Regions from separate parts of the Homo sapiens genome. Here region 1 is linked to region 2. A link means that fine-mapping ties the variant in region 2 to the expression of a gene that starts in the linked region. Tissue or cell type: monocytes after interferon gamma. Region 2 holds a variant in brackets; the other region holds the start of a gene. All regions are shown on one strand. Distances are from middle to middle.

Region 1 (11,084 bases), 21 kb before region 2:
CGGATTCAAAACCCTACCTCTCCTCCAAGGAGGCCAGGACAAAACACCAAGCAATGGACCTCACCTTCATTCACGTCAGGAAACCACAAGAAGTATTTGAAAAAGGAAGCAAAAGGACGGGACGCAGGAGGGGACTTCCTGCCCCACTATACACAGCACCGCTCGTTCAAACCACTCAAGGGGCCCTTTCCCGGGGGCACCAAAGCGCAGAAGGCAGAGGGACCAGTTTGGAGGAGATCACAAACTCAGAGGAGCCAGGTTACAGACAAGCAGCCCTCCTCCCAGGCCATACCCCAATACCAGGCATGCTTCAGTAGCGTCCTCGAGGGGACTCCGTCAGGGATGCACAAGGACCACTCACCTCCTACCTCCGCCGGACTTCATCTCCCCTCTCCGCCCACTCCCACCTCACGTACTCGGCCCCCAGTCGCCTCTACACCCCGAACCTCTCCGGTGTTTCGGTCTCCCCCGGCAAAATCCTTCTTCCTGCCCCTCGGCCCTCAACCTGCGCCTCCCAAACGGCGGCGCCCGCGTCCCCTGCTCTGTTCCGCCTCCTTCGCTGCGGCGCCCGCCCCCGCCCCGCCTCTCCGGTCTCCGCTCCGTAACTGCTCAGCTCTGCTCCGGCTCCCCGGCGCGGCCCCTCACCCGGGTGGAGCCGATGTCCATCATCACCTCCTCGAAGGCCGCCGTCTCCTCGGCCTGACGCTGCTTCTGCAGCGCAATCTTCTCACTAAATTTGCGCGGATTGGAAGCCGAGGCCGTGGCCGAACCAGGCCCGTTCGCCCCCGACGTCGCCATCTTCCTTCCCCGTCCCTCCCTGCCACCCTCCCAGTACCAGCCGCGGCCTCCGCCGCGGCCTCGGCCCGGCTCCTCCAGCCGTAGCCACCGCCGCCTCAGCGAGCACCGCGAACCCGGCCCCAGCCTAGCCCTGACCTGTTGCGCGCGGGGGCCGCCGGGAATTGTAGTTTGTTTACGAGACTCCTTCACATCCCCAGTCACGCAGCACTAGGAGGAAACGGACTCCACTTCCCAGCAGCCCTGCTGACTCCGGAAACTGGGGACTTGGCTCCACCCTCTCGGCTACTCCCTGAGAGGTGCAAGCTGGGAAGAGTAGTTCTAAATTAGCCCTGAGACTACGAACGGAAAGGAGAGAGGGATTGAAGAGAGAAGAAAGGAAGAGGGAGGGGAGGGAAGAGAAGGGAAGCCGAGGGGTGGAGACCGGGAAAGAAGTACCAAGACACAAAGGAGGAAAAATTAGGTCATCTTCAGGGAAGGGGACTATCGGGTCCTGAGTGAAAACAGTGAGACCAAGAATCTTAAAACAGCTGTAAACATCTGGGACTCAGGCCCTCTCAGGCTGGCCACATGCCCACCCCTTTCCCAAAACAAACGAATCAGATACTGTACAGATGTCTAGAAACATCTTTTATTTGGGTAACAGGTCCCAAAACAGGTCAGTTAATAAAATAGATTCTAAAGAATATGTCCCTATGCACAGCCCTCCCTCCCCAAAAATAACGCTGGGGGTAGGCATTGCCCTTCCCCCTTGGGCTCCTCGGGTGTATTTAAAAAAATGTTTTGGCAGCTCAGTGTTTATCATCTGGGCATGGGACACCATGTCCATGTCCCCATATTCCTAGGGTACAGCAGCAGTAGATGGCTGCAACAACCTTCCTCCTACCCCAGCCCAGAAAATATTTCTGCCCCACCCCAGGATCCGGGACCAAAATAAAGAGCAAGCAGGCCCCCTTCACTGAGGTGCTGGGTAGGGCTCAGTGCCACATTACTGTGCTTTGAGAAAGAGGAAGGGGATTTGTTTGGCACTTTAAAAATAGAGGAGTAAGCAGGACTGGAGAGGCCAGAGAAGATACCAAAATTGGCAGGGAGAGACCATTTGGCGCCAGTCCCCTAGGAGATGGGAGGAGGGAGATAGGTATGAGGGTAGGCGCTAAGAAGAGTAGGAGGGGTCCACTCCAAGTGGCAGGGTGCTGAAATGGGCTAGGACCAACAGGACACTGACTCTAGGTTTATGACCTGTCCATACCCGTTCCACAGCAGCTGGGTACCCACCTCCAGCCTCCCATGTGAGCCTGTCCTTATGTATAGTGTCCAACCTCTGATTCTAGCAGTCAAGTGTCTTCCCCAATCCTAATGTCCCCTGATATGTCTCTAGCGACTTGACCATCTCTTGTTCCTTGGGACTGGGGCCAGCCTCTTGTCTGCCCACTTCCCTCTCATTAGTCAGATAGCCCCAAAGGCTCTATCTTTAGCTCCCAGAGAACTTTTTGGTCCTCAGTATTTCCCTTCCCCTTTCCTTCCTATTCCCCACAACTGGGGGAGGGAAGGGAGAACAGGGGCACCTGATCATCAATCTCCCCTGCCCCTCTCTTGAAGCCCCCTAGATTTGGATGAAGAGCAGGCCAGTGAGCAGGGCAAAGCCTGCTAGGAGCAGAATGACCTTGAGGATCCTTTGCTCAGAACTGGCCAGCTCCTGGGGCAGGATTTCCAGAAAGGTGATATAGAGAAAGGTGCCAGCTGCCATGCCCTCTAGCACAGACTGGGCCAGCTGGTGCAGAGGTCCTGCCGACTCTGCCAGAGCTGCACCCAGCCCGATGCCTAGAGGTGTCATGCATGAGAAGAGGATCCCACAGCCAGCCACCACCTGTGCCCTAAGGTGGCTCTGCAACAGCCGCAGGGACAGGCTGACAGCCAGGATGCCCTTGTGGAGCAGCAAAGCCAGGCACAGCTCCATGGCCCGAGCCCGGTCTCGCTGCAGCCCTACCGCCAGCCCCTCGAACACGGAGTGGAGGGCCAGGGAGAACACCAGTACACAGGCACGCAAGGCTGAGGGGGTTGCTGGGGCTCCACTCGCCTGTGGGACCCCTGGCCCATCATGCCAATGCTGCGGCCCACCATTCACTGTTCCCAGCAGAGCCCTTGTTTCCTCCAGAGGTGACGGCCCTGACTGCTCCTTGTAAGCCAGTGTGATCTGCTCCATCACCAGGACCAGGAAGAAGCCCATGGCCAGGATGAACTCTTGCAGTGGGAACTGGAGCTGTGGGCAGAAGCAGCAGCAAAATGTTCAGGGAAGGAAGAGTGAGATGCAAAATCTGGTGAAAGCCCAGTTACACAGACCTAGGGTCTGACACAGACACAGGGCTACTCTCAGTCACACAAAGATAGAGTGAATTGGTAACACTGACACAGAATGATACGTACACACAGATTATGGTGTCACTCACAGTGTTACGTGTAGACCAAAGTTTCTCAGCTTTGGAACTATTAACATTTTGGGGCCAGGGGCAGTGGCTCATGCCTATAATCCCAGCACTTTGGAAGACCAAAGTGGGAAGATCACTTGAGGTCAGGAGTTTGAGACCAGCCTGGCCAACATGGTGAAACCCTGTCTCTACTAAAAATACAAAAATTGGCAGGGTGTGGTGGTGGATGCCTGTAATCCCAGCTACTCAGGAGTCTGAGCCAGGAGAATCACTTGAACCCAGGAGCCAGAGATTGCAGTGAGTCGAGATTGTGCCACTGCACTCCAGCCTGGGCAACAGAGCAAGACTCTTTCTCAAAAACAAAACAAAACAAAAACAAACAAACAAAAACATTTTGGGCCAGATAATTCTTTGTCATGGGAGCTGTCTTGTGCACTGTAGATTGTTTAACAGCATTTCTGATCTCTACTTACCAGATGCCAATAGCAGGCACAATGTTCCCTCCATCCCCCTCCCCATTGTGACAACTAAAAATATCCCCAGACATTACCAAATGTTTCCTGAGGGGCAAAGCCACACTCCTAGTTGAGAGTCACTGATGTAGACATACATGAAAAGGTCACACATTGCCCATCTCCCCAAATACTCATACATAGAGCCACATATCACAGGACATTCAGGCTTATACGCAGTCACACGGAAACACAGGTCACTCAGTCACAGACACACAAAGGGATACATCCAGTGTTACTTCCTCAGTTTTAGAGGAAAAAAGGAAAGAGCCCAGGATGACTTTCCTGCCCCACTATCCAACGGCCTCAGTTTTTCCTATAATAAACCAAGTCCTATGCCGTGGACTTGATCATTCCTCACAGCCCACTTCCTTGGGCCAAAGCCTAAAAAGGTTAGCAACACCAAGACCCAGGGAATCGCTTCCTATCCTTCTCAGGCCTACAGAGACCTCTATCTCCAGCCCTTTAGGAAAGTGGTGAGAGAGTGAAGATGATTCTTGGAGCACTTGCTGGTAGCTAGAACTGAGAACCCATAGAGCAAGTCACACACCTGAGAAAAAGTGTCTTACTGTCTCAACGGGAATGTAGGGGTCACACAGGGAATGGGGAAGGGGGAGGGAACACATAGAAAGAATTATGCCCCATAACCAAAAATCACAATTCATACCACATGCCAAAAGTCTTCCACACAGTCATGGAGTGGCACATGAATCAATCTCCACAAACCAACACTCCCAGAGGTGTGTGATTCCCCTCCCGCAAGTCACATGCCCAGGCCAGTGCTCACCGTCACGTGCAAGGCTGCCAGGGCCTCATCTATGGCAGCCAGGTAGTCAGGCAGCAGGTCCAGGAGACAAGTGGCCAAAAAGACGCCCCCCGCGAAACAGCTTACTAGGCTCAGGGCTTTCTGGCGGGAAGCTGGGTAGGGGTGAAGCACAGAGGGGAATAAGCAAACAAACCCCCTCCAGGGCCGACCACCCCAACCCAAACAATGGCTACCCTTGCCTTTCCCTCCTCCTTTGGTCACTCCCCGCCAGCCCCAGAGCCCTCCCTAAGCCAAGCATTCATAGCAGTGTGGGGAAAAGGAGAGGCTTACCTGAGCCTTCATGGTTAGCTCCTGGCCGGCGCAGCACACAGATGGGCACCAGGCTGCAGAGGAGGGTGAGCACCAGCAGCAGCACCAGGGCCCCCAACTTCACCTCCAGCCCCACAGGCACTGGAGGCTCTGAAGCTACCGCCTCGGGGCGCCACACCAGGAGCTCTGGCTCTCCCCAGGGCCCCATGATGCTTCTGGTAGCTCCAGTGACTCTCAGACCTAGGAAGACAGACCAGAGTGGTTGGGAAAAATCATGCAAAGGAAGATGGGGCAAGGAATGGGGAAGCTTGGTCAGCAGAGTGCAGCTCCCTGGCCCCAGCCACTTTGTGACCTTCCCCTACCCAGGGTGACTCATCTACTCCTGTACCAGGAACATTCCTCTCTTCTCACACTTTCTTTCCCAAGTGACTTATTCAGGGAGACTGCACGGGGGAAACCGAGGCATGAGAAAGGCTGTATGGATATCTCATCACCCTTTCACCTGGTGCCCCCAGAAAACTAGGAAACTAGGAGCCGCCTCCAAATAGGACCTGGAGCTGGAGTTCCCCTAAGGAATGTAGAGGCCGGGTCCCCAACTCCCGAACGGAGTGGGTGAAGCCAAAAAGGCTAGGGCTGTGCAGAGATGTCTTGGGTAGCTTCGTGGGCCACCTGGACAGGGTAAGTTTGGGTGCTGGATCGCTCCATCGTTCCCCTTTTCCCAGCGCAGAGAACAAGCGCTTCAGGCCCCAGGATGGGACCTAGAGGCAGATGGCCAAAGAGAGGGGCCCTAAGAGTCTGCGGTCCCGGGACGGACTGAGGCGACACTGAGGGCGGTGCCTGAAAGTCCGGGCTCCAGGAGGCGGGGTGCGAGGCCGCCAAGCGTCGCGGGAAGCAGATGAAGAATGCGTGAGCTGGGACTCCTGTTCCCGGGCCCGGGGAGGCCTGGGCAGCCGACATGGACCCCGCTGCCAGACAGCCCGCACTCACCTCGCGAGGGTCTCACTACATGGTCTCCGCGCGCTTCCGGCCTAGAGTCGGGAATTCCCGCCCCCTCCCATAGCTCCCCCCTCCCCCACAGGAGCCGCGTACCCACGACCGACTGCCAATGGCAGCACCGAGTGGGCGGGGACAGACCGGGAGTGACGTCAGTTAGGAGCAATCAGAGATCGGGAGCGGGAGCGGGCGGAGCAGGCGACCTGAGGAGAGTGAGCGAGAGCAAGAGCGGATATTAGGAAAAGGACCTCGGGGCTGGGGCCCTGGGGCGCATCTGTGGAGGACTGAGGGGCCGGAGCGGGCCAGTCAACAAAGGCTTTGATTATATGGATATTTTTAAAAGAGGGAGACCCCGCATTGTCAAGTCTTCCGGCCCACATCTGAAAACATCTTCCTGGCCTTGGGCCAAAGTCTCATCTGTCCCTCAGAAGGCTCTGACACCTCGTCAGTGCCTCTTGGCGCCCAAGGGAAAGCATTCCCCTCTTGGGACCAACTTCCTTGACTGCTTTCCCTCACCAGCACCCACAACAAGGAAAAAGACAAGGCAGAATTGGAAAGGGGGGAAAGCAAAGAGAGGGTATGTCTTGAAAATCATCCCTTCTCGACTACTTATGGCACTCAGTGCAGCCTCCGCCTTCTCCAGGTGGGTGGGGACGTGGTGGGACCGGAATGCGGGGTGCTGAAGCCGCGCCCAGGGAAGAGCCCCCAGCGCATTCCAGGATATCTGCGTACCGCGCCTGCGGGCGTCTGGCCGGTTCTCCCACCTGATTTCCAGCCCAGCTCCCGCCACCCTCGCCGGTCGGTTTGCTGTTTGCTGTTCCTTGAATGCCCCAAGGTAGTTGTTTCAGCTCAGGACTTTCACCGTTTCCTCAACCTGGATTCTTGTGGCCCACAACTCTGTGCCTTGAGAATCCTCTTCTAGCCTCAAGGGACGGTAAGACAAAAGAAAATTTAAAAAGGGGGCTCAGCTGTTCTTTTATGCAAAGGTGAAAAAAGCTTCATTGCCTAAAGAAGGGACAGATGGGATCTTGCTTCCTACAGGAAAATTAATTTTAAAAAAGAAAAAAAAAAGGGGGGACAGTGTAATGCTTCTCACAAGGCTCCAGAAACGAAGCCCAGTAATTCCTTAAGTAAAAGAGGAATGTGAAGACTTCTTAAGGGGCCGGGCGCGGTGGTTCACGCCTGTAATCCAAGCACTTTGGAAGGCCGAGGATGAATCACCTGAGGACAGAAGTTCAAGACCAGCCTGGTCAACATGGTGAAACCCCGTCTCTACTAAATATACAAAAATTAGCCGGGCGTGGTGGCGGGGGCCTGTAATCCCAGCTACTCGGGAGGCCGAGGCAGGAGAATCGCTTGAACCCGGGAGCCGGAAATTGCAGTGAGCCGAGATCGCGCCATTGCGCTCCAGCCTGGGCAACAACAGCGAAACTTCGTCTCAAAAAAAAAAATTATTCGTAATTGGTAACATTAACAAGGAATTATGACTGGGGGGGTCAGGAAACCTGGATTCTGGTCCAAGTTCTACCTTTATAGTTGTCAAATATATATATTTGTTTATTTATACACATACATATGTCATATATGATTAATAATTGTATATATTTATGGTGTACAACATGATGTTTTGAAATATATGTACATTGGGCCGGGCGCGGTGGCTCACGCCTGTAATCCCAGCACTTTGGGAAGCCGAGGCGGGCAGATGACGAGGTCAGGAGTTGGAGACCAGCCTGCTCAACATGGTGAAACCCTGTCTCTACTAAAAATACAAAAATTAGCCAGGCGTGGTGGCGCATGCCTATGATCCCAGCTACTCAGGAGGCTGAGGCAGGAGAATCGCTTGAACCGGGGAGGCGGAGGTTGCAGTGAGCCAAGATCACACCTCTGCACTCCAGCCTGGACGACACAGCGAGACTCCGTCTCAAAAAAAAAGAAAAAAGAAAAGAAATATATGTACATTGCAGAATGGGTAAATCAAGCTAATTAACATATGCATTACTTCACATATTTATTTGTGATGAGAACATTTAAAATCTCTTGGCAACTTTATTTCTTTTCTTTTTCCTTCCTTCCTTCCTTTCTTCTTTCCTCCTTTCTTTCTTGACAGAGTCTTGCTGTGTTGCCCAGGCTGGAATGCAGTGGCATGCTCTTGGCTCACTACAACTTCTGCCTCCCAGGTTTCAAGCAATTCTCCCGCCTCGGCCTCCCGAGTAGCTGGGATTACAGGCGCCCGCCACCACGCCCGGCTAATTTTTGTATTTTTAGTAGAGACGGGATTTCACCATGTTGACCAGGCTGGTCTTGAACTCCTGACCTCAGGTGATCCACCCGCTTCAGCCTCCCAAAGTGCTGGGACTGCAGGTGTGAGCCACCACACCCGGCCCAATAGATCTCCTCAATTTTACCTTACCTTGATGTATGATTTTAGGCAAGTCAGTTTTCCTCACCAGAGTTTGATAAATCAGGGGCAAGGAGGAAGTTAAACAAGCAGATGACTGCAGAGGGTCCTTCCAGTTCTAACATCAACGGAAGCTAACTACATTCCCCACTCAAATCATCTCTGCACATACAGCCCGCAGGAAGCCCTTTGAAATGTATTTAACCACCTTTCTCGCTCTCAGAATGATCTCAACAAGAACAGCTTTGCTTTCCTTGGAGCTCTGCATCAATCTAGGAAGGCTGCTTTGTCTCTTCACTACTTGAGCAGGATGGAGAGATATGAGCGGGAAAGACAGATAAGAAATCTGAGAAAGCCCCACAAGGTGGGTTGATAGTGTGAAGAACATGGGCTGAAGCATCCAAATCTTGGTTCAGCTACTTACAGGGTAACCTTGAGAAAGTTACTTAAACTTGTCAGCTCGGACGGGCGTGGTGGCTCACGCCTGTAATCCCAGCACATTGGGAGGCCGAGGTGGACGGATCACGAGGTCAGATCGAGACCACCCTGGCTAACACGGTGAAACCCTGTCTCTACTAAAAATACAAAAAAATTAGCTGGGCGCCTGTAGTCCCAGCTACTAGGGAGGCTGAGGCAGGAGAATGGCGTGAACCCGGGAGGCGGAGCTTGCAGTGAGCCGAGATCGAGCCTCTGCACTCCAGCCTGGGCCACAGAGCAAAAGAAAAACAAACAAACAAACTTGTCAGCTCCATCTGCTGTAAGAATTATATGAGTAACATGGAAATGCCTGACTAGACCCTGTTCCCGTTTTTACCCTTAGCCCGTTCAAATCTTCATAAGGATAATTAGTAGCAGTTTGAGTTCTGGGATTCACACTCCAAACTACTGTTTTACTCACCCAGCTACCCTTTTCTGAAATACTACTGAAAACCATACCTGTATCAGTTTACCTCCATTGTTTTACTTGAAGTGAATTCCTGGACCATCAGACATTAGACCAAGGCAAAAAAATAAAAATAATCAATCAACCCTGAGTTTTGGTATTACTACTTTCTAGTCATGGATCTGCCTCCTCATAGGTAAAATTTGCAAAATATTACCCGCCGTGTGTGCCTCAGAACTGTTATGGATTAAGGAAGAGAACAATTTTTATGAAAACGTTTTGTAAATTATACAAGTGTGGGACATAATGTTCCCGGTAACTGTATGCAAACAATAAGACAACAAACGCAAAAGGCTTTTTAACTTGTTGCAGTTTTCCTGCCCCGTGTCCCTCCGTGAATGAGCAGCGTGCAGCGAGCGTGTGCGCACAGCTGCTGTTCTCCATTAACGCCACACTGCTCGGCTTGCGGACGGGGAAACCCGCCATCGCGCTCCTGCCGCCTGCCGAGCGAGGATCACCGCTCCACTGGGGTCAGCGGGCTGTTGACTCCCCGCCTGGGTGAAACCGGAGCTTCCGAGTCACGTGGCGCGCGAAGACAAACCTGGCTGCTCAGGGTTTCCCGGAGCTTTCTCCCAGCTTCCCGGCGATTCATATTCTGGCGCTTACCCCTCCCTTTAGGCTGGCGGAACCCAATCCCCGCCTGACAAATAAGTCCCGCCGGCCGGACGCAGTGGCTCGCGCCTGTGGTCCTAGCTGCTCGCGGTGCTGAGGCGGGAGAATCACCTGAGCCCGGGAGGTCGGGGGCTGCATGGAACCGTGATCGCACCACCGCACTCCAGCCTGGGCAACAGAGCGAGACCCTGTCTCCAAAAATAAGAATAAAGAAAAAAAAAAGAAAGAACTGCGGCCCCATTGGCCTGACTCTCCTGAACAGCCAAACTGTCTCCGACCAGTTACGGAAGAGGCGGCCTTGAGAGGGTAGTGTGCCATTGGCTCGATGTCCTGCCCCTCCGAAACCTAAGTCTTCAGCTTCCAATCAGGACTCAGCTTTGGGAAGAGCGCCACGCGGTGGGCGAGGGGATGCCCTAGTAAATTCGCAGGTCTCTTGACTCTTTCCGCCTTTGTTTACAACCCTGCCATGATCTCCCTCTTGCAAAAGCGAGGGCTACAGAACAGGCATTCAGGAGTCCTGTGCTCCAGTCACAGCCTTTTCTGTTCTTCAGCTAGGAGACACCAAACCCTCAGGAAGATTTACTATAGCTAAGAGAAAACTGCAGCAGAAAGGGCGCGGCTACCTACTTCTTAAATTCCGTTTGTGGACCCTCAGACTCTTAGTCCCCTACTCCCAGATACAGCGGCCCTACCGTGGCTCCTGGCAAGGTGGCATCCACTTTTGTAGTGTAAGGCTGGGGGCGGGGTTTGGCTGGCAGGTCCAGGATACGAGATCCTGGAAGAAAGAAAAGGTGTAGTGTTTGGGGAGGTCAACGGGCTATGCTGGCTTGACAGGGCTGGGCTCTTCAGAACAGGTAATGCTTGGGGGGGGCCTCTTTGTCTAAACCTGAGGGATAGGGCTGAAGGTGAAATATCGAGGGGACAGGTGAGGGGGCTTGCTAGTGAGGAAGGAGTGGGGGGGCGGGGATAATGGAAAAGGGAGCAGAGGAGCCCAGAAACTGTAGGGGGTAGTAAGCAGCCATCATTCCGTTTCTGCAACCCTCCGTCCCACACGCCTTCCTGCAGAAGCATGGATCTCGGAATCCCTGACCTGCTGGACGCGTGGCTGGAGCCCCCAGAGGATATCTTCTCGACAGGATCCGTCCTGGAGCTGGGACTCCACTGCCCCCCTCCAGAGGTTCCGGTAACTAGGCTACAGGAACAGGGACTGCAAGGCTGGAAGTCCGGTGGGGACCGTGGCTGTGTGAGTGTGACGAGTGGGAGTGGGGGTGGGGTTGAGACACAACTCTGTGATAAGAGGCTTCAGCTCCCACTTGGAGACAGGTCT
Region 2 (11,084 bases):
CCTGGCTCTAATTTTGAATTTGTTTCTTTAAATTATTATTTGTGTTTGCTGAAATTGTGTGTGTATTATTTTTGTGTATGTGTGTGAGTAGTTATATGTTACATAAAGTAGGTTGTGGGGTTTTTTCCAGTAATGTTTAGCTATAATTGAAGTTTGGGCCGAAATCTGCTAGTATTTGTTACTCCTCACCAAATCCTACCTTATCTCACAACAAACTGTAAGATCTTGTGATATTTCACTTCCAATAACCTTACCAGGCATCAGAGTGGGGTCTCTACTCTGAAATTAAATATCTGCCATAAGGTATGTTGAAGACGTTAGTCTCTTTCCCAGGAGGCACAAAGTGCAAGTCTTTTCCTCATCGCTTGAGCAAATTAAACCTACCGGACAGTTTACTACAGAACTCAAACACAGCTGGGCGCAGTGGCTCACGCCTGTAATCCCAGCAATTTGGGAGGCCGAGGTGGGCGGATCACCTGAGGTCGGGAGTTCAAGACCAGCCTGACCAACATGGAGAAACCCCGTCTCCACTAAAAATACAGAATTAGCTGGGCATGGTGCCATATGCCTGTAATCCCAGGTACTCGTGAGGCTGAGGCAGGAGAATCACTTGAACCCGGGAGGTAGAGGTTGCGGTGAGCCGAGATCACACCATTGTACTCCAGCCTGGGCAACAAGAGCAAGAATTCATCTCAAAAGAAAAAAAAAAGAACTTAAGCATAAGCCACAAATAAGGTTTATCATTACCTCATCAATGCTTGGATACTTACATTTATCAAGTTATTACATTTTGCTGTGTAAAAAATATTATGTATGGTGAAAGGGGGATATATATATATTATGTATTAAAATATGTATTATATATTATATATTAAACATAATATAATTATATATAATTATATATTAAACATAATATATTATATATTAAATATATAATTATAATATATATTTAATATATATGTATAATATATAATTATATATTATATATAATATGTTATATGTTTATAAACATATACATGTTATATATATTATATATTTCCTATATATTTAATATATAATATATATAATTATACATTGTAATATATAATATAATATAATATATATATACTTAAGGATGCTGTGCATCAAGCCTGAATTTTTTTTTTTTTTTTGAGATGGAGTTTCGCTCTGTCTCCAGGCTGGAGTGTAATGGTGCGAACTCTGCTCACAGTAACCTCTGCCTCCTAGGTTCAAGCGATTCTCCTCCCTCAGCCTCCCAAGTAGCTGGTATTACAGGCACCCACCACCATGCCCAGCTAATTTTTTTTGTATTTTTAGTAGAGATGGGGTTTCGCCATGTTGGCCAGGCTGGTCTCAAACTCCCAACCTGAAGTGATCCACCCACCTCGGCCTCCCAAAGTGCTGGGACTACAGGCATGAAACAACGTGCTCGGCCCAAGCCTGAATTTTCTTTTGCATTTCCAGTAGTTTTGCCATCTTTGTTATTCAGCAAAGAGATGTTTTTGTTTTCGTTTTTGTTTTTTTGAGACAGAGTCTGGCTGTGTCACCCAGGCTGGAGTGCAGTGGTGTGATCTCAACTCACTGCAACCTCTGCCTCCCAGGTTCAAGTGAGTCTCCTGCCTCAGCCTCCCAAGTAGCTGGGACTACAGGCGCCCTCCACCACTCCTGTCTAATTTTTTTTTTTTTTTGTATTTTTAGTAGAGACGGGGTTTCACTATGCTGGCCAGGCTGGTCTTGAACTCCTGTTGTGATCCACCACGCCCAGCCAAAGAGCTGTTTTTGTTAAAGTTTGCTTGTCCCAGGCTGGGCGCAGTGGCTCACGCCTGTAACCCCAGCACTTTGGGAGACTGAGGCAGACTGATCACTCGAGCCCAGGCGTTCAAGACCAGCCTGGCCAACATGACAAAACCCTGTCTCCACTAAAAACACAAAAGTTAGCCAGGTGTGGTGGCACGTGCCTGTAATCCCAGCTACTCGGGAGGCTGAGGCAGGAGAATCGCTTGAACCCGGGAGGCAGAGGTTGCAGTGAGCTGGGATCGTGCCACTGCACTCCAGTCTGGGCGACAGAGCCACACTCGGTCTTAAAAAAGAAAAAAAGTCCTTGTCCCTCTGCTTGTAAGTACCACCAAAGGGCTATATTAACTGACTATTGGCCAGGCATGGTGGCTCACGCCTGTAATCCCAGCTACTTGAGAGGCTGAGGCAGGAGGCAGAGGTTGCAGTGAGCTGAGATCGCACTATTGCACTCCAGCCTCGGAGACAGAGCAAGACTCTGTCCCTAAAAATAAATGAATAAATAAATAAAATAACTGACCATTGTGCCTGGCACTTAGTAGATGCTCAATATACATATATGAATAAATGAACTTCTCATTTTCCTCACTAATAAAAGCAGATATTAATGCCTATCAAATAACTAAATGGATTGCTGGCAGAATCAAAGAAGCTTGCACAAATCACTGGATAAATCACTAGGTGCAGTTATTTCCCTGAGGCTAGGACTGTTAGAGTTCTTCTCGCTGGGAATTTCCTGTGCTCAGGACAAGGCTCTGCCCACAAGGGCATCCGGACCCCATGGCGGAAAGAGGATATCCAGACCTTCAGATCACTCTACCTCCTGCTCTTTGCTATTTTCCTTACCAACAGAACAGCTAGGGAAGAGACAGCAGTAGGATTAGTCCTGGTTCCACAGAAACCGAGCCTGATTTGGGTAAATCAATCACTTTGAAGACACAATAATTGGATTTGAGTGGAGAACAATTCTGACAATAATCCAAGTTACCCAAAACAGGAACATTTGTGCAAATGGTGGCCTTTAATACCAAGAAAGACCATGACAAGTGACAGAACAGGAGCAAATTCCCTAGTGTAGTGCCGAGCTAGCCTTTTGCAGGACCCTAAAACCTGATCTAGTAACAGAATAAATCAGTGTATTTACATTTATGTTTGCCCTGAAAACCCAGGTAAGGTCTGAAGCCTGAGGCATCTCTCCTTCCTTTCCTCCTCCCTCTCTTCCTACCTCCTTGCCTTCTTTCACTTCCTCAATTCATTCCTCTCCCTTCTCCCTTCCTCTCTCTTCCTTTTTTTCCTTTCTGCTTTTCCCTTTTCTCCTTTTTCTCCTCATTCTCTTTACCATCTACCTATGTGACCCTCCAAGCCCCTCTGCTATTTCTCCCCTGCTCACTCCCTCTGCCGTTGTCTCCCTCAGGTTCAGCTTCCGGGGTGGGGAGGCAAGAAAGGGTCCTCAGCCCAGGGAGCACTTGTTGGTGTTCTTCTTGTCACAAGTTTTCAGGTCAGTACTGGGAGGCTTGTTGCCGTTTCCCTAGAGGGAGAAGGGCACAGGTGTCATGGTGTGAATGGATGGTTAGGGTAGGAGGGTATAAACTGTTTAAAGTAAATCCACCCTCATGAGAAATCTTAGCATTGCTCCCCGTTTTTATCAACACCAACACACACACACACACACACACACACACACACATACATACACACACACACACCCCAGAGTTGTACCTAGTCCAGCAAAACCAACTTACTGATCTCCGGCCTCCTGACTTGAGCAAGATGTCCCGGGCCAGGGAACTAAAAGCCTAAAGTGGGGAACAGAGTCAGTTTGGAGGGAGGAGAATCTACCTTCTAATACTTCCTCTCTTGGTCGGGGATGGGGGTGTGGATCTCACCTCATCCACATTCATACTGGATTTAGCACTAGTTTCGAAAAATCGGATTCCATGCTCTCGAGCCAACTATAAGGGGTGAAGTGGGAAGAGAATTGAATTAAGGACAGCAGCCAAGTCCTCTGCAATGCAACCTATCTTGGCCCTCCCAGCCCAGTTCTAGAACATTGCTCAGCCTGGCCCTCACCTTATCGGCCTGCTCCTTCTGCACCTTCCTCTTGGCCTCCATGTCACATTTGTTCCCCAGCAAGAGGCGCTCCACCCCAGCCGAGGCATTCTGGGGGCAAAAGACAAGTAAAAGTTAGGTCCTGCCGGCTGGGAGCGGTGGCTCACGCCTGTAATCCCAGCACTTTGGGAGGCCAAGGCGGGTGGATCACCTGATGCAGGAGTTCAAGATCAGCCTGACCAACATGGAGAAAACCCGTCTCTACTAAAAATGCAAAATTAGCCGAGCATGGTGGTGCATGCCTGTAATCCCAGCTACTTGGGAGGCTGAGGCAGGAAAATCGTTTGAACCTGGGAGGCAGAGGTTGCAGTGAGCCGAGATCCTGCCATTGCACTCCAGCCCGGGCAACAAGAGCAAAACTTCATCTCAAAAAAAAAAAAGTTAGGTCTTGCCTATCCTGATGGACCCCTTCATTCTCCAGGTTCTAACCAGTTTCCCCATCTCTTTTGGAGGGTCCTCACCTCCTTGATGCTTTTCATCCAGTTCTGAATATTCTCGAAAGATTTCTCATCCGTGATGTCGTATACTAGGATAATGCCCTGGGAGATGACAAAATTCACCTTGGACCATGTTCCCATTGAGGCTTCCCACTGCCCTGTAAGTGACCCCGCATCCATGGGTCTAAACACTAGGCCATGTTGGGCCCTCTGCAACCCACACTGCACCCCTCCCATTTTTACCTGCCCCAACCCCTGACCCTTTGTATTCATAATATATTCTGTAGCCTCATCCTTCATCCTTTGTTCAGACCCACACTTCATACCATGGCTCCACGGTAGTAGGCAGTAGTTATTGTCTTGAACCGCTCTTGGCCAGCCGTGTCCCTAAAGAAGGAGAAGTTTTCATGGGATGGAATAGAGGGAAGAATTCTCCAACGGAATAATTCTTCCTCTCTCACAAGAATTTAGCTTTTGTAACATGGTGGGGCAACAGAATAAGGAAACAGTAAAGGGGAACGGGATTAAAGACAGTTGAGCTGATTTCCAGAGATGGTAGTGGCCCAAGAAACAAGATGTCTTTGCTTATTCATTGAATGTTTGCTATGTGTCAAGCACTGTGTATGTATCATTTTATCTAATCCTTACTCTTTCCTTGTAAGACATGTATTATTGTCTCTATTTTAAAAATGAGGAAACACGCCAGGTGCCGTGGCTTGCGTCTATAATCCCAACACTTTGGGAGGCTGAGGCGGGTGGATCACCTGAGGTCAGGAGTTCAAGACCAGCCTGGCCAACATGGTGAAACCTCGTCTCTACTAAAAATACAAAAATTAGCCCGGCCTAGTGGCGGGCGCCTGTAATCCCAGCTACTTGGGAGGCTGAGGTCGGAGAATCACTTGAACCCAGGAGGCGGAGGTTAAAGTGAGCCTAGATTGTGCCATTGCACTCCAGCCTGGGTGACAAGAGCAAAACTCTGTCT[CA/C]AAAAAAAAAAAAAAAAAAAAAGAGGAAACAGATTTGGATAGGCTGAATAATTAATGAAGGTCAGGCAGGAGATAACTAAAAGAACCAGATTTGCGCACCAGTCTGCTCTTATATGTCATAGCATAATGCCTCCACTAAGCTTCATACCACTTAAACACCTTCAGGGTCTATATTTGGCTCTCTGGGCTCACCATATTTTGGAGAAAACACTAGACTTAGAGTCAAGTCTTAATTCTGCCTTTGCCATTTAACTGCTCACAGCCTGTTTCCATGTTATGACTGAACAGTTGTTTGTTGTCAAATTAAGAGGATGCTCTGCAGCCAGAGGAGGCAAGAGTTACAAAAGAGTTGGAACTAGTTGGGAGAGCAGGAAGAGAGATGGAAGGACAGCTGAGTGCATCCGGAGAAATGCCAGAAGTGCTCCTTCTAGCACTTCTAGAAGGAGCAATGGGGAAAGGAAGAGAAATGAAACAAAATAGAAGGAAAAACGTGTAGGAGGTAAATGGGGAAGTCTGGCGAGGCATCCCAGAGGACTGACTTACCAGACTTGTAGTTTGATCTTCTTCCCCTCTATATCCACAGTGCGGATCTTGAAATCAATTCCTAGGGGTGGAAGGTATGCACTGAAGTTGAGACATGCATGCACACATGTAAAACTGTGTGATGGAAGGGACAGGAACGGAGCAGTGCTGGCACCAGAAATTCTGCAGGGGAGGCACTTGGGGAACAATCTTGTTGGAAATGCCAAGCTAGGAGAATTTTCCCAAAGCTGTATTTGTATAGCAAGAATACTATTTTTACGTACATTTTATGGATTTTGGGAGGGAAAAGGTGACGAAAATTCTGCATGGAGGCTTAAAATCCTTAGGCTGCCTCTTGGGTCCATTCAGTTATACCAGCTGACAACTCTCTGAATTCAGTCTCTGTCTCCCCCCAGATATTACTTTCACATTCCTCTTCTCTGTTTTCTTAGAGCCCTCTACTCTTGGTATCCCACCTACCCTCCTAGTAGAGAGTAAGGAAAAAAGTAGCTGAAGCCAGTCTATGTGAATTAACTAGTGGGCCAAACTTGGCACTAGGAAAGTCTGAGGCTAAACAGGATTACTTTTGAGACAATTAGGAAAGAGGGGCATTTTTCCTTTTCCTTTGTAACCAGAATTGTCGTGAGACTCTTCCTGTCTATTTCCCAAGCCAGAGGAGATGAAGAAAGAAGAGAAGGGAGGAGGGGAGACAATGTTCTTCTTAGTAGAAACTTGGGCACCTCCCCCAAGCCTGCTGGGGGCCCCTGGGAGGAGGATGAGTCACCAGGCTGACTCAGAGACCCCAAAAGTCCCCTCATTTCCACGTTCCTCACCAAGCTGGCTGCATATTCATGATCACAGTCCTTGGGCCACCCTCCAGCACACCCAGCCACCTTGTTCCACCCTTCCCAAACCCTTGTTCAGCTGAGGTGCAGGGAGACTGGGGCAGGGAACCTGGGAAGTAGATGGTGAGGTGGGGACACAGTGGGAGAGTTTGAAGCTCAGCAAGACAGAAAGAGGCTAGCATCGGATCGGGAGAAAAAGATGTGGCGGACAGGGATACAGGAAACATGGAGATAGGATCGAGAGAGTTCTAGGTGGTGGGGGTAGGGGAAGAGGGGAACAGAGAAAAATAGAGAAGAGTTCTTGTGGATTTGGGGAGACTAAGGCGATGGTACCAAGAAAATGAGGAGCTGGCAGCAGTTGAAGAGTTACCTGAAGGCCTCAGAGAGGTGAGAGGTTTGGTTACTATACAGAGACATGCACGGGGGAAGGGTCAGAGCCAGGGGTTGAGGGACTAGAATTTAGGAGCCTTACTCTAAGGGGACTGAAAAGTGGGGTCACTAGTAATCCGGGAGCCGGAGAAGGAGGTCACAGGAGAGTCGGGGTCTGGGACATGGCCAGCGGGCTCACCGATGGTGGAGATGTAAGTGTTGTTGAAGTTGTCCTCTGCAAAGCGAATGATCAGACAAGTCTTGCCCACCCCCGAGTCCCCGATCAGCAGCAACTTGAAGAGGTGGTCGTAGGCTTTGGCCATGGCGGACACCGGGGGAGCCGGGGGAGGGGTGGGGAGCGCCCGGCACTGGTAGGCGGGACTGGACGGTTGGCAAACAGAGCGGCACGGAGCCCAGGCCAGGAAGAAGTTTTCCTCCCTCTCCGCCCAGGCTCCGGGAAAGAGGAGAGGCGGCACCCCTCCGGGCTCCACCCCCTGCCCGCCCACCCTTTTGAGCAGGCCAAGGCTGCCAGCCCGGCCTCTGTTCTCTCGGTTTTCCCTTCCTAGCTTAGGCCGGCCTGTCTCTCTCGCTATTTTCCACAGCCTTTCGGTAATTGTAGCTCCCCTCTTAGGACCTTACTCTTCCATTCTGAGGCCAGAGAGGCTGGGGTGAAGGGAAGTAGAGGTTTAACCACGACGACCAGAAATTTTAGAAGAGAAATTTTAGAGGGATTAGGGGAAGAGAACCAAGAGTTTTGGGAATAAGGGTGAAGGTAGGGAGAGCACTAGAAATTGAAAAAAAAAAATGGGGCTGAGTTTTGGAGATGCTATTCAACGAAGCTAGAAGATGAGTTATCATCGGTTTCTGGGGCTGAGTAAAAGGCAGTCCTAGAATTTTACTGTTAGTTGTCCAAGCCCTTAGTTCTATGGGTCCCAATTCACTTTGAAAAAAGCGGGATGCGCAGAAGTAGGTTATTTGTTGAGTCAGTCTGCCCCCTGGTGGAACAGGGTGAAAACGTAAATTAGTTATACAGAATCGGCCCCACCACCCCAACACACACAGCCTACCTAGACACATCCTGGGGCTTCAGTTGGAACGATCTCTCTTATGGGGACCCATGTGTGATTTCTCTGACCAAATAGCTTAGGAAAACAGAGATTTGAACTAAAAATGTCATTCTTTACGTGAATCTTTTAATATGGCCCACTTAAGGTGCAGTACTCCTGAAATCTCACTCAATAGGCCATGAATGTGTAGCCTTGGTAACCAGGAAGCTGAAATATGAACAGCACGGGTATAAAGAAACAAGTTTGCCGGGCGCGGTGGCTCACGCCTGTAATCCCAGCACTTTGGGAGGCCGAGGCGGGCGGATCACGAGGTCAGGAGATCGAGACCATCCTGGCTAACATGGTGAAACCCCATCTCTACTAAAAATACACACACACACACAAAATTAGCCGGGCGTGGTGGCAGGCGACTGTAGTCCTAGCCACTTGGGAGGCTGAGGCAGGAGAATGGCGTGAACCCGGGAGGCAGAGCTTGCAGTGAGCCGAGATTGCGCCACTGCACTCCAGCTTGGGCGACAGAGCCAGACTCCGTCTCAAAAAAAAAAAAAAAAGAAAGAAAGAAAGAGAGTAAAAGAGAAACAAGTTTATCTCTGCCTTTAGAAAAAAATTATTCTTGCTATATGTGTGCTGGGGGTGGAAAAAAATACGAAACACGAAAGAAAGAAAATATTATCTAAGACCTGTTGCGGTGGCTCACACTTGTAATCCCAGCACTTTGGGAGGCCAACGTGAGAGGATCCCTTAAGCCCAGGAGTTCAAGACCAGCTTGGGCAACATAGTGAGACTGCTTCGACAAAAAAAAAAAAAAAAAAAAAAAAAAATTAGCCATACATGGTGGTGTGGCCTGTAGTCCCAGCCGCAGCTACTTGGGGGACAGAAGTGGGCAGAACACTTGAGCCCAAGAGTCCAAGGCTGTAGTGAGCCACGATTATGATGCCACTGCTCTCCAGCCTCGGTGATAGAGTAAGATCCTGTTTCAAAAAAATTTTTTATTTATTTTTTAATTAATTAATTAATTTTTTTGAGACAGAGTCTTGCTCTGTCGCCAGGCTGGAGTGCAGTGGCGCAATCTCGGCTCACTGCAACCTCCGCCTCCCGAATTCAAGCGATTCTTGTGCCTCAGCCTCTGGAGTACCTGTAATCCTCTGGGATTACAGGTGCCCGACACCACGCCCAGCTAATTTTTGTATTTTTAGTAGAGATGGGGTTTCACCATGTTGGCCAGATGGTCTCGATCTCTTGACCTTCTGATCCGCCCGCCTCGGCCTCCCAAAGTGCTGGGATTACAGTCGTGAGCCACCACGCCTGGCCCTATTTTTTTTTTTTTTTTGAGACGGAGTCTTGCTCTGTCGACCTAGGCTGGGGTGCAGTGGCGCGATCTCGGTTCACTGCAAGCTCCGCCTCCTGGGTTCACGCCATTCTCCCGCCTCAGCCTCCTGAGTAGCTGGGACTACAGGCGCCCGCCACCACCCGGCTAATTTTTTGTATTTTAGGGAGAGACGGGGTTTCACCGTGTTAGCCAGGATGGTTTTGATCTCCTGACCTCGTGATCTGCCCGCCTTGGCCTCCCAAAGTGCTGGGTTTACAGGCGTAAGCCACCGCGCCCGGCCTATTTTTATTTTTATTTTTTTAATTTTTATTGTTTATTTTGAGGTGGAGTTTCGCTCTTGTTGCGTAGGCTGGGGTGCAATGGTGTGATCTGGGCTAACCGCAGCTTCCGCCTCCCTGGTTCAAGCGATTCTCCTGCCTCAGCCTCGCGAGTAGCTGAAATTACAGACACCCGCACTACCCCCTGCTAATTTTGTATTTTTAGTAGAGACGAGCTTTCTCCATGTTGGTCAGGCTGCTCTCGAACTCCCGACCTCAGGTGATCCACCCACCTCTGCCTCCCAAAGGCCTGGGATTACAGGCGTGAGCCACTGCGCCCAACCTTTGTTTTTACTTTTATTTTATTTTTTGAGACAAAGTTTTGCTCGTCACCCAGGCAGAAGTGCAATGGCTCAATCTCTGGTCACTGCAACCTCCGCCTCTTGGGTTCAAGCGATTCTCCAGCCTCAGCTTCCCGAGTAGCTGGGATTACAGGCGCCTGCCACGACGCCCAGCTAAATTTTTTTTTTTTTTTTTTTTTTTTAGTCGAGACGGGGTTTCACCATGTTGGCCACGCTGGTCTCGAACTCCCGACGTCACGTGATCCGCCCGCCTCAGCCTCCCAAAGTGCTGGGATTACAGGCCTGAGCCACCGCGACCGGCAAAGAAAAAATTATTATTATTATTATTATTATTATTTGAGACGGAGTCTCGCTCTGTCGCCCAGGCTGCAGTGCAGCGGCGCGATCTCCGCTCACTGCAAGCTCCGCCTCCCGGGTTCACGCCATTCTCCTGTCTCAGCCTCCCGAGTAGCTGGGACTACAGGCGCCCGCCACCGCGCCCGGCTAATTTTTTGTATTTTTAGTAGAGGCGGGGTTTCACCGTGCTAGCCAGGATGGTCTCGATCTCCTAACCTCGTGATCCACCCGCCTCGGCCTCCCAAAGTGCTGGGATTACAGGCGTGAGCCACGGCGCCCGGGCAAGAAAAAATTATTCAAGGGAGTCTCTCTCGAGCCTATTCTGGCTGCCTATAAAAAATTAAAGGCCGGACGCGGTGTCTCACGCCTGTATTCTCAGCACTTTGGGAGACCGAGGCAGGTGGATCACGTGAGGTCGGGAGTTCAATACCAGCTTGGCCAACATGGTGAAACCCCGTCTCTACTAAAAATACAAAATTAGCCGGGCATGGTGCCGCATGCCTGTAATCCCAGCTACTCGGGAGGCTGAGGCAGGAGAATCGCTTGAACGCGGGAGGCGGAGGTTGTGGTGAGCCGAGATGGCGCCATCACACTACAGCCTGGGCAACAAGAGCAAAACTGTGTCTAAAAAAAAAATAAAAATAAAAATAAAAAAAAAGAAGGCATCTTTCAC

Alleles and levels. Positions count from the first base shown, and alleles are read on the strand shown. Sizes are in standard deviations (SD) of each study's normalised expression.
With allele CA in place of C in region 2, the expression in monocytes after interferon gamma of the gene that starts at base 5,838 in region 1 is lower (large effect, 0.81 SD a copy in Fairfax 2014).

What was found. PIP is the estimated chance that this variant, and not a neighbour inherited with it, causes the effect.
Region 1: SLC39A1 starts here. The variant in region 2 is fine-mapped to the expression of SLC39A1 in monocytes after interferon gamma (Fairfax 2014, PIP 0.95).

The regions. Positions count from the first base shown.
Region 1 is chr1:153,957,700-153,968,783 of GRCh38, forward strand. SLC39A1 (solute carrier family 39 member 1) reads right to left here and starts at 5,838. Exons shown (of 4, transcript NM_001271958.2): 1 at 5,796-5,838; 2 at 4,830-5,048; 3 at 4,521-4,651; 4 at 1,411-3,055. The coding sequence starts at 5,016. The coding sequence ends at 2,399. MIR6737 (microRNA 6737) reads right to left here and starts at 4,721; the gene lies at 4,652-4,721. CRTC2 (CREB regulated transcription coactivator 2) reads right to left here and starts at 913. Exons shown (of 14, transcript NM_181715.3): 1 at 646-913. The coding sequence starts at 798. CREB3L4 (cAMP responsive element binding protein 3 like 4) reads left to right here and starts at 10,203. Exons shown (of 10, transcript NM_001255978.2): 1 at 10,203-10,465; 2 at 10,823-11,000. The coding sequence starts at 10,827. RefSeq lists enhancers at 5,122-6,076, 5,405-5,474, 5,426-6,625, 5,515-5,574, 5,725-5,894 and 9 more and silencers at 543-692, 9,960-10,461.
Region 2 is chr1:153,978,855-153,989,938 of GRCh38, forward strand. RAB13 (RAB13, member RAS oncogene family) reads right to left here and starts at 7,485. Exons shown (of 8, transcript NM_002870.5): 1 at 7,259-7,485; 2 at 5,867-5,927; 3 at 4,667-4,727; 4 at 4,365-4,442; 5 at 3,865-3,954; 6 at 3,681-3,746; 7 at 3,537-3,590; 8 at 2,796-3,322. The coding sequence starts at 7,382. The coding sequence ends at 3,245. JTB-DT (JTB divergent transcript) reads left to right here. Exons shown (of 1, transcript NR_186180.1): 1 at 1-306. RefSeq lists enhancers at 6,544-6,773, 7,087-7,588 and a silencer at 7,400-7,569. The variant CA/C (reference allele first, on the strand shown) is at 5,323.